Linked DNA regions of Homo sapiens: region 2 is linked to region 1. A link means that fine-mapping ties the variant in region 1 to the expression of a gene that starts in the linked region. Tissue or cell type: whole blood. Region 1 holds a variant in brackets; the other region holds the start of a gene. Each region is shown on its reference strand, or each on the opposite one.

Region 1 (4,000 bases):
CCACACATCCCATACACATATACAGACCACACACACACTACACATCTCACACACATATACACACTACATATGCACACCACACATCCCATACACATATACACAGCACACACATACACTACACATCCCATTCATATACACACACCACACACATACACACCCCATATACATATACACAGCATACACATATACACTACACATACACACACACACCACACACATACATGCACACACAAACATATGACACACACAACATACAACTACATGCATAAACATACCACATGTACATAGATACAAACACACACATGCCACACACATACATATACATACATCACACACCACATATACCCCCCACATATATACAGACACCTGCACACACACAACACATGTACCACATGCACATATACACAAACACACACACATCAATTTCAGTTTTCCAAGGAAAGTTATTAAACTTCTGCTGCCTGATCTCACCGGTCTATTCCAAAACCTAGTACAAGATGTTATCTGATATAGCACAAAAGTCACTTACTTTAATCTAAAATCAAAACTGTCATGAAGTTCTGTGGAAGACATCATGATCCCTAAACATTTTGAACTATTTGACAAATTAGCAGACATAAAAATCCTACCCAAAACGAATCTGGAAGACTGTAAATTAAAATTTACTTTGAAATGCGAAGCAATGAACCTGTTACATGATGGCCTCTCTTATCAAACATGGAAAAGCTTAGAGGTGGGCAGATCATTTTGTAATACTATATTTCATGTTTGGGAAATTTGAAAAAGGGGAGGCTTTCCAACCGGGATCATCTGGGTTTGGATATGTTCATGCTGACAATACCTGCTGTCTTCACGAGGCATTCCAAGATAGTGGTAGTAAATTGCAAGATGAATAACATAGAATTTTCAAAATTTGCTCCATGGACCACTGAACAATAATTCAACTATGAAGGGGGAAAGGAACTAAAAAAGCAAGGTGAACAAGAATCCAAATAATATGCTTTCAGTTATTCCTCAAAGAAGAAAGAAAAGAAAACTTGAAAACCAGTACTCCAGCCACTTGAAGTTCGGCAAACAGTTCTCGGCTTGAGACTTCTCTCACATTTGAACATGCTTGAGTTCAGCTGCAGCTAATGCTCAGATGCTGCTAGATAATATTTCTCCCCAGCTAAAATGGGGTTTATCGGTTCAGAAGAGATGCATTTCGCAGATAAAAACAACTTCCTCTAGCTGCTGATTAGATAAGCAGGCTCCGCATCCGTGCTCAAAAGCCTGCTGCCCAATCTCCAGAGCGGCTGCTTTCTTTCCATGGTGAAAGCTGTCCCCAGCACCGCTCCTTCCCTCCCAGAGTGTAGAGGACTGTTACCACCATTTGTCTACCCACCCCCCTCCCCCGACTACCGTGCTGGTCTTCTGCCTGAAACTGTAAAATGAAGGGGAGATTTGGCACCAGAATAGCCAATTTAAAATATGGTAATCCTCTTACAATTCCCACTGCAGTCTTAGAACTCATGGCTGAGTAAAGAAATTTTTACTTCAATTGAATGAATAAAAAAGATTTATGCTTTTACACACTCAATCATTTGTTCTGGAGTCCAGAGGGAAAATACCTAGATTTCTTTTCTACTTTTTTTTTTTTCAATTAGGCTAGGGTAAATCAAATTCTGTTCAAACTATTCAACATGAAGGACCTAAGTTGTGCTGATTCAGTTTCTATCTCTCAGTGCTGCCAGGGAGCCTAGAGCCTATGCCTCTGAACACCACACTGTGAGATGCAAGCTGAAATAAACCACTCATGAAACCATGGCGATCCCCTCCCAACTTCAGGAGTTGGCTGCTCCAGTGCACAGAGCCAGAGAAGCACATTCTGGAATGTACCAGGGCATATAGAAATATACCTTATCTCCCTATATTCAAACTCATGTGTCCTCCCGCCTGAATAACTACTGCCTGAGGTTGTCCCGATTATCAAGCCAGGTAGCAAGTCATTTAGTAAGCCCTGTCCCAGGCCCATATGGGCCTCAATCCTTTGGCCTTCCACGGATTCAACCAACCCATCTCCACTTACATCAATCATGGTCCCAGTTCAGTCCTACAGCATTCCTGTGCCTCTGCCCTGGGTTTTTTCTTCAATTCTACTCTAAGCCCTAAATTTGCTTGTCCTCTTTCTCAGGGGTGGCCATCCCGTTTTCTAGCCTGCAATCTTTCTTCTCTGTCCTCTGGTCTTTTGCTCCTCTGTTCC[A/G]CCCACCCAAACGCCTCCCCTGCTGCCTGATTTCATGGGGGAGGAATGCCCTTACTCACACCTCCAGACCTGTGGGCTTGTCAATAGAATCCTAGTGGCTGAGGACTCTTGGTTAATTTAGGACACGGAAATGTGTACAAGAGAGAAGTCAGTAACTGGCAAAAATGTATGTATAAAGGAGGAGGAAAAAAATGCAAGGATTACTGAATACGGGAAGAAAATAACTAAGTTTTTACTTTTCTCACACAAAACACTTATCTGCTCTCCAGACCCCAACCCTGACATAATTCCTAAACAAAAAACTTTTAAGAGCCCCTGCTCAAGAGTTTTCAGAACAAGTCTCAATTCATTTTTTTACTTCTCTAGCATGTGTGCCATGGCTGACTGAGTAAATCTGGGGTTGCCTGAAGAGGTCACTGAGTGCATCCTCGGCTTTAAACAGTTTCATACACAACCACTTCAGAGAGGTGAGAGTTCTCTAGTTTTTAAAAAGACCACTTCAGAAGAACAAGCTACAGTCTCACTAAATAGACCATTCTGATGACTAAACTCTCCTTGCCAAAAGGAGAGTAAAGACCACATCTCTCCTTTAAGTCTAACTTAAATTCTTCAAGCAACACTTTAAATCCTTTGTTTCATTTTCTTCAGACCGGGAAGAAAATGGAGGCCAACTGAGGGCTGCAGGGCTGCTCTGCCCTCTGGCTCTGTCTCCTTCTCCCCAAACTTACACACAAACCTAGAATGTTCCTTCCACACTGAATGAAGCAATGAGGTGTGAAACCATTATTTGTTTATTCTGGGAGTGACTCACCAATCAGTATAACTTTGCACCCTCCTCATAGGGAACTGATTTCCACCATTCCCATCAATTTGTTTATTAATATGGTCTGTTATCCTTGTTGAGATTAGATTTGTCTAAAACTGAAGGATGCCAGTGGTCATAACAGCTCACAGCTTTCCAAAAGTGTTCCTTGTCACTTTCTAAAGCAGACACTCTTGCAATCTATTATTAGCAAATAATTTCCCACTTTTTTTTTTTTTTTGCATCTTTTAGCTTCTCACCATTTCTCCTTGAAATTTCAACAGTGGCAGCTCGACTTGAACTTGAGTCAGGTGGCGGCCAGCACCCTTACTCTGTCCTTTAGTCTTGCCCTATTCTAACAAATTCTTCCTTTCTCTTTTGGCTGTTTTCAGTTTGTTTATTCTTTGGACCATTTTTTTTAAAGTAAGAAATCCCTCTTCTATCCTTGGTGCTGGTCATCTGTTCTCTCCCTTTTCCCAAGTGAAGCTACGATAGCTTCATTTACCCTTCTTGTAAATCTTTGAAAGTTCTATTTTGCACAAGTTGCATTTCTTTTTTCTGTCCTTTTTACTTTGTGTCTTTGCTACTCTGTCTTCAACAAATTATGTCTATATATGTTCCATCTAACCCTCAAGGCCATTCTGTGATGCAGGTTCAGTTACTATTGCCACCTTCAAAAGAGGAAAGTGAGGCTCAGAGAAGAAAAGCCTTGCCAGAAGCTCCAGGCCAGGGAGGAGAGGGCCTGGACCTGTCCCTTCTGAGGTGTGCCTTACCCACAGGGCACTCTCCGCCCCTGCTGCTCACCCTGCATTTCAGCAACTCCATTTCCTCCTCTCGGCCCCACTGCTTCTGTCTTTTCATTTCCTGCTGTGCACTCCTTACAGTCCTTTGCACTGATGACTTATTCCCATGGAATAATGTGATGAAATATGGTACCCAGGTTATTCCCTTTATCC
Region 2 (4,526 bases), not on the chromosome of region 1:
TATTGTTCAATTCTACATTCAGGGCTGCTGCTCATTCATTCATTCCTCATACATTACTTGATCCCATACTGAGTGTTGGATCTTGTTCAGGGTGCTGGGAATACAGTAGGAAGATAGGCAAAGTCCTTCCCCTCAATTTGCTGACATCCTGGTGGAGGCCGACACAAACCAAATACACCAATAAGCACCTGATGCAACATCAGGCGGCGCTGGAGAACACAGGCCGGGTGGTGGCTCACACCTGTAATCCCAGAGTTTTGGGAGGCTGAGGCAGGAGGATTTTTTGAGGCCAGGAGTTTGGAACCAGCCTGGACAACATAGGAGACCTCCATCTCTACAAAAATAAAAATTAGCTAGGCATGGTGGTACGTGCCTGTAGTCCCAGCTACTTGGGAGGCTGAGGCGGGAGGACTGAGCCCCAGAGTGTGAGGCGGTAGTGAGCTAGGACCGTGCCACTGCACTCCAGCCTGGGCAACTGAGCAAGACCCTGTCTCCCAAAAAAAGAACAATGCAGTCAGGACAAGTAAGACCAAAGAGTGGCTGGGTGAGGAATGGTCCAGGAGAGCCCTAGGAGGAGGTGATGTCTGACCAGAGACCTGAATCGAGTGGGGAAAGGAGCCTTTTTGGGATCTGAGGAAAGAGCTTCCAGATGGAGAGAACAGGATGTGCCCAGGCCTCGGGGTGGGAAGGAAGGTGGGTGGGATCTAGATGATCCTTCTAGCCCCAGGGTTTATAGAGCACTAGGAAAAGCAAGGGCTTTGGACCCAAGCCGATGGGGATTGCATCCGGCTGGATGACCTCAGGCAGGCACCGCACCTCTCTGTGCCTGTTTCCTCAATGGGGTGTGGCAATGGGAATGAGATGGGAGACAAGCCCGAGGTCACCCTCAGACACACAGTGGGGGCCTCTTTTAGCCAGAGACAAGGCTCCTGTGACCTCTGCTCTTCCCCCGCTTCGTCCTCCATCCATCTCTTTCTGGGAAAGGGAGGGTGCCATCGGTCAGCCAGGGCAGTGGATGCTCAAGGAAAGAATAAGGGAAGTAGCCGGTGCCCCAGAGCCGCTGGCCTAAGGGAACGGGGGTACATTCCACCTGTGGAACGGGATGGGGTGGGTCTGGAGAGGCCAGTCTGGGCTCCTTGTCACAGGCGCTGGCTAGAGAAAGAGAGAGGCCTGTGAATGGATCTCCAGGCCTTCGAGGGAGATGGTGGAGAAAAGAAGGCAAGGTGCAAGGGACTCACTGGCCATGGCCCCCTTTCAAATTGTAATAAGAAAGCTCAGCAGAATGCACAGGTGTTTACCCTGAAAAATGGGACTCCTGGGTCTTCCACTCGCTCCATAAACACTGCTATTTTCTGGATGGGCACGGTGGCTCACAACTGTAATCCCAGCACTCTGGGAGGCTAAGGCAGGAGGATTGCTTGAGCCCGGGAGTTCAAGAGCAGCCTGGCCAACATGGTGAAACCCTATCTCTACTAAAAATACAAAAAAAATAGCAGGGTATGGTAGCAGGCACCTGTAATCCCAGCGAATTGGGAGGCTGAGGCAGGAGAATTGCTTGAACACGGGAGGCAGAAGTTGCAGTGAGCCGAGATCGCGCCATTGCACTATAGGCTGGGAGACAGAGCGAGACTCCATCTCAAAACAAAACAAAAAACACACCAGCCTGGGCGACAGAGCAAGAGACCCCATCTCTACAAAAAGTAAAAGAAAAATTAGCCAGGCGTGGTGGTGTGTGTCTGTAGTCCCAGCTACTTGGGAGGCTGAGGCAGGAGGATCCCTTGAGCCTAGGAGGTCGAGCCTGTAGTGAGCCATGATCATGGCACTACATTCTAGCCCGGTAGTGACAGACCTTGCCTCAAAAAAAAAAAAAAAAACCACCCCAACACCTGCTGTTGTTTTCTTTACATTGTTAACCAAGAGCATGAAATTTAGGCCGGGCATGGTGTCTCACGCCTGTAATCCCAGCACTTTGGGAGGCCGAGGCGGGCGGATCACGAGGTCGGGAAATCGAGACCATCCTGGCTAACATGGTGAAACCCCGTCTCTACTAAACATACAAAAAATTAGCCGGGCGTGGTAGTATAAGCCTGTAGTCCCAGCTACTGGGGTGAATTTCTTGAACCTGGGAGGGCGGAGGTTGCAGTGGGCCGAGATCGCGCCACTGCACTCCAGCCTGGGTGACAAAAACTCCGTCTCAAAAAAAAAAAAAAAAAAAAAAAAAGAGCATTAACTTTGATAACTTAAAAAGAGTCACGTGAACATATCCACTGTCCGTGTAGATTCTACATTTATTTGTTGGGGGCGGTAATGGGGCCCCTTGGAGGTGTGCGTTCCGTCGGGGGCCGGGAAGGCGGGGCCTCACCCAATCCTGGAGACTCCTGCGGATGCCATTATGAGGAGCAAGAACGCGAAGGGGCCTCGGGTCCGCTGTAAGGCTGCACCCGCACCTGCGGCGCCTCTGCGGCGGCCGCCGTCGGCCCTGCCCCGCCCCGCCCCCTTCTTCCGGAGGAGCTGCGGTGGGGGCGCTCCACCGGGTCCTAGGAAAGGGGCTCTCTCTGGCCCCGTCCCCGGCGGCCCCGCTCCCGGCCCCCCGGCGCCGCTCAGCCTCCCGCCCAGCCCCTCCGCGCGTGACCTCGGCCCCGCCCCCGCGAGCCCCTGCCCCGCCCCCGCTCCGGGTCCCTCTGTCACTTCCTGAATCCTGCTTCCTGCTTCCCAGAGGCCGGGATCCGGAGCCGCCCGAAGCCGGTGCCGCAGCCCCCTGCGCCCCCGGTGCCCCCGGTGAGCGCGGCAGGGCCGGGGCTAGGGGCGCGGGCTGGGGGCTGGGCGGGGCTGCAGGGGCCGGGCTGAGGGGGCTGAGGGGGGATCGCGGGTCCCAGGAGCCTTTCGCCTCCCCTCTACCCCACTCAGTCCCACTCCCCTTGGCCGCCCAGCCTCTCCTCTCCTGGGCGGAGGTCCCTGGAAGTTGGGCTCCTGGTTCACCCTGGACCCCGATTCGAGGCCGCTCTGGGTTGCTTCGCGGCCCACAGCTGCGTCCCGACCCCGTCCCTTCCTGGGGGCCATGCCGGGGCTCCCTGGACATTCCCTGGGACTCAGAACTGGGCACTCACTCGGCCCCACAGTAGAGAGACTTTTCCTGCTTCCTCTCTCCTTCTTCCCCATTACCTAGCCTCCAAATCTCTGGGAGCAGGAAGGAGGCTGCTCCCGACTGGCTGGGACCTACAGTAGAGCTGAGAGCTCTCCAACCCCGGCACCTCCCACCTCCTGCCCCCGACACACACCAGAGCCAGGGAGGGGCCCTGCGTCCTGCAAAGCCCCTCAGGACTCAGCAGTGGTCAGGGCCGGAGCATTTACCTCTCAGATCACTGCCTGCGGGGTGACAGGCGGCCAGGCTCTGCACCTGTGACCCCATTCTGTAACTGGGTAAACCGAGACCCAGGAGGGTTACGGTGGCCTGGCCCCCGGTTGCATCCTCCCGGCTCACCTTCAGCAGCCTGGGGAGGGCTGGAGTTGTTGGGATGGGCCGGACTGACCCAGGCCTCTCTGTCCCGCAGACATGTCCTTCCGCAAAGTGGTCCGGCAGAGCAAATTCCGGCATGTGTTCGGGCAGCCGGTCAAGAACGACCAGTGCTATGAGGACATTCGCGTGTCCCGTGTTACCTGGGACAGCACCTTCTGCGCCGTCAACCCCAAGTTCCTGGCGGTGATTGTGGAGGCCAGTGGAGGGGGTGCCTTTCTGGTGCTCCCCCTAAGCAAGGTGGGTCCTGTCAGGGTTGGGGGAAGAGGAGGCACCTCGGCCACCCCTACTGGGCCTTTCTGCACACCTTGAATCCCTCATCTTGCCGTTTCTCACACTGCTGGGCAGGTGTTATAACCCAGATTTATCGCCCCAAGTGTTAGCACAGATGGAAAGTAGCCTGTTGCCATAGAGGCAGGGTTAGAGGCAGCAAACATTTCCTGCTCACCTGGCAAGTGGGGCACAGTCACATCTGGGCCACCTGTGAGCCGGGACGTGCATGTCATTCCCACTCCATGGAGGGGAAGACCAAGGCTTCGGGAGGGATGGAGCCCACTGACTGCCCCCTCGTGCCCACAGACGGGCCGCATTGACAAGGCCTACCCGACGGTGTGTGGGCACACGGGACCTGTCCTGGACATCGACTGGTGTCCTCACAACGACGAAGTCATAGCCAGCGGCTCGGAGGACTGCACGGTCATGGTGAGGCACAGGACTGGCTGGGCCAGGGTCGTGGGTGTGGCCGAAGGGGGCCAGCAATAGGACCAGCAGAGGACTGAGCTCGGTGGCCCTGTCCCTACCACAGGTGTGGCAGATCCCAGAGAACGGGCTGACCTCCCCGCTGACAGAGCCGGTGGTGGTACTGGAGGGGCACACCAAGCGAGTGGGCATCATCGCCTGGCACCCCACGGCCCGAAACGTGCTGCTCAGTGCAGGTCTGCACCGCCCCCCGTTTTGTGCTCCCCCCCCCCACGGACCCCTCCATACATCCCAGCAGCCCCTCCAGGGCCCA

The links. PIP is the estimated chance that this variant, and not a neighbour inherited with it, causes the effect.
Region 2: it holds the start of CORO1B, and the variant in region 1 is the best candidate, but not a certain one, in a credible set for the expression of CORO1B in whole blood (TOPMed, PIP 0.56).

What each region holds. Positions count from the first base shown.
Region 1 is chr7:50,330,724-50,334,723 of GRCh38, reverse strand. All of the region lies in intron 3 of IKZF1 (IKAROS family zinc finger 1), which reads right to left. Among named protein-coding and RNA genes, the nearest start is that of IKZF1, 28 kb to the right of the region's middle. The variant A/G (reference allele first, on the strand shown) is at 2,243.
Region 2 is chr11:67,441,656-67,446,181 of GRCh38, reverse strand. CORO1B (coronin 1B) reads left to right here and starts at 2,706. Exons shown (of 11, transcript NM_020441.3): 1 at 2,706-2,778; 2 at 3,552-3,754; 3 at 4,094-4,216; 4 at 4,320-4,449. The coding sequence starts at 3,554. RefSeq lists enhancers at 2,211-2,310, 1,971-2,810, 3,651-4,490 and silencers at 2,441-2,700, 2,741-2,790.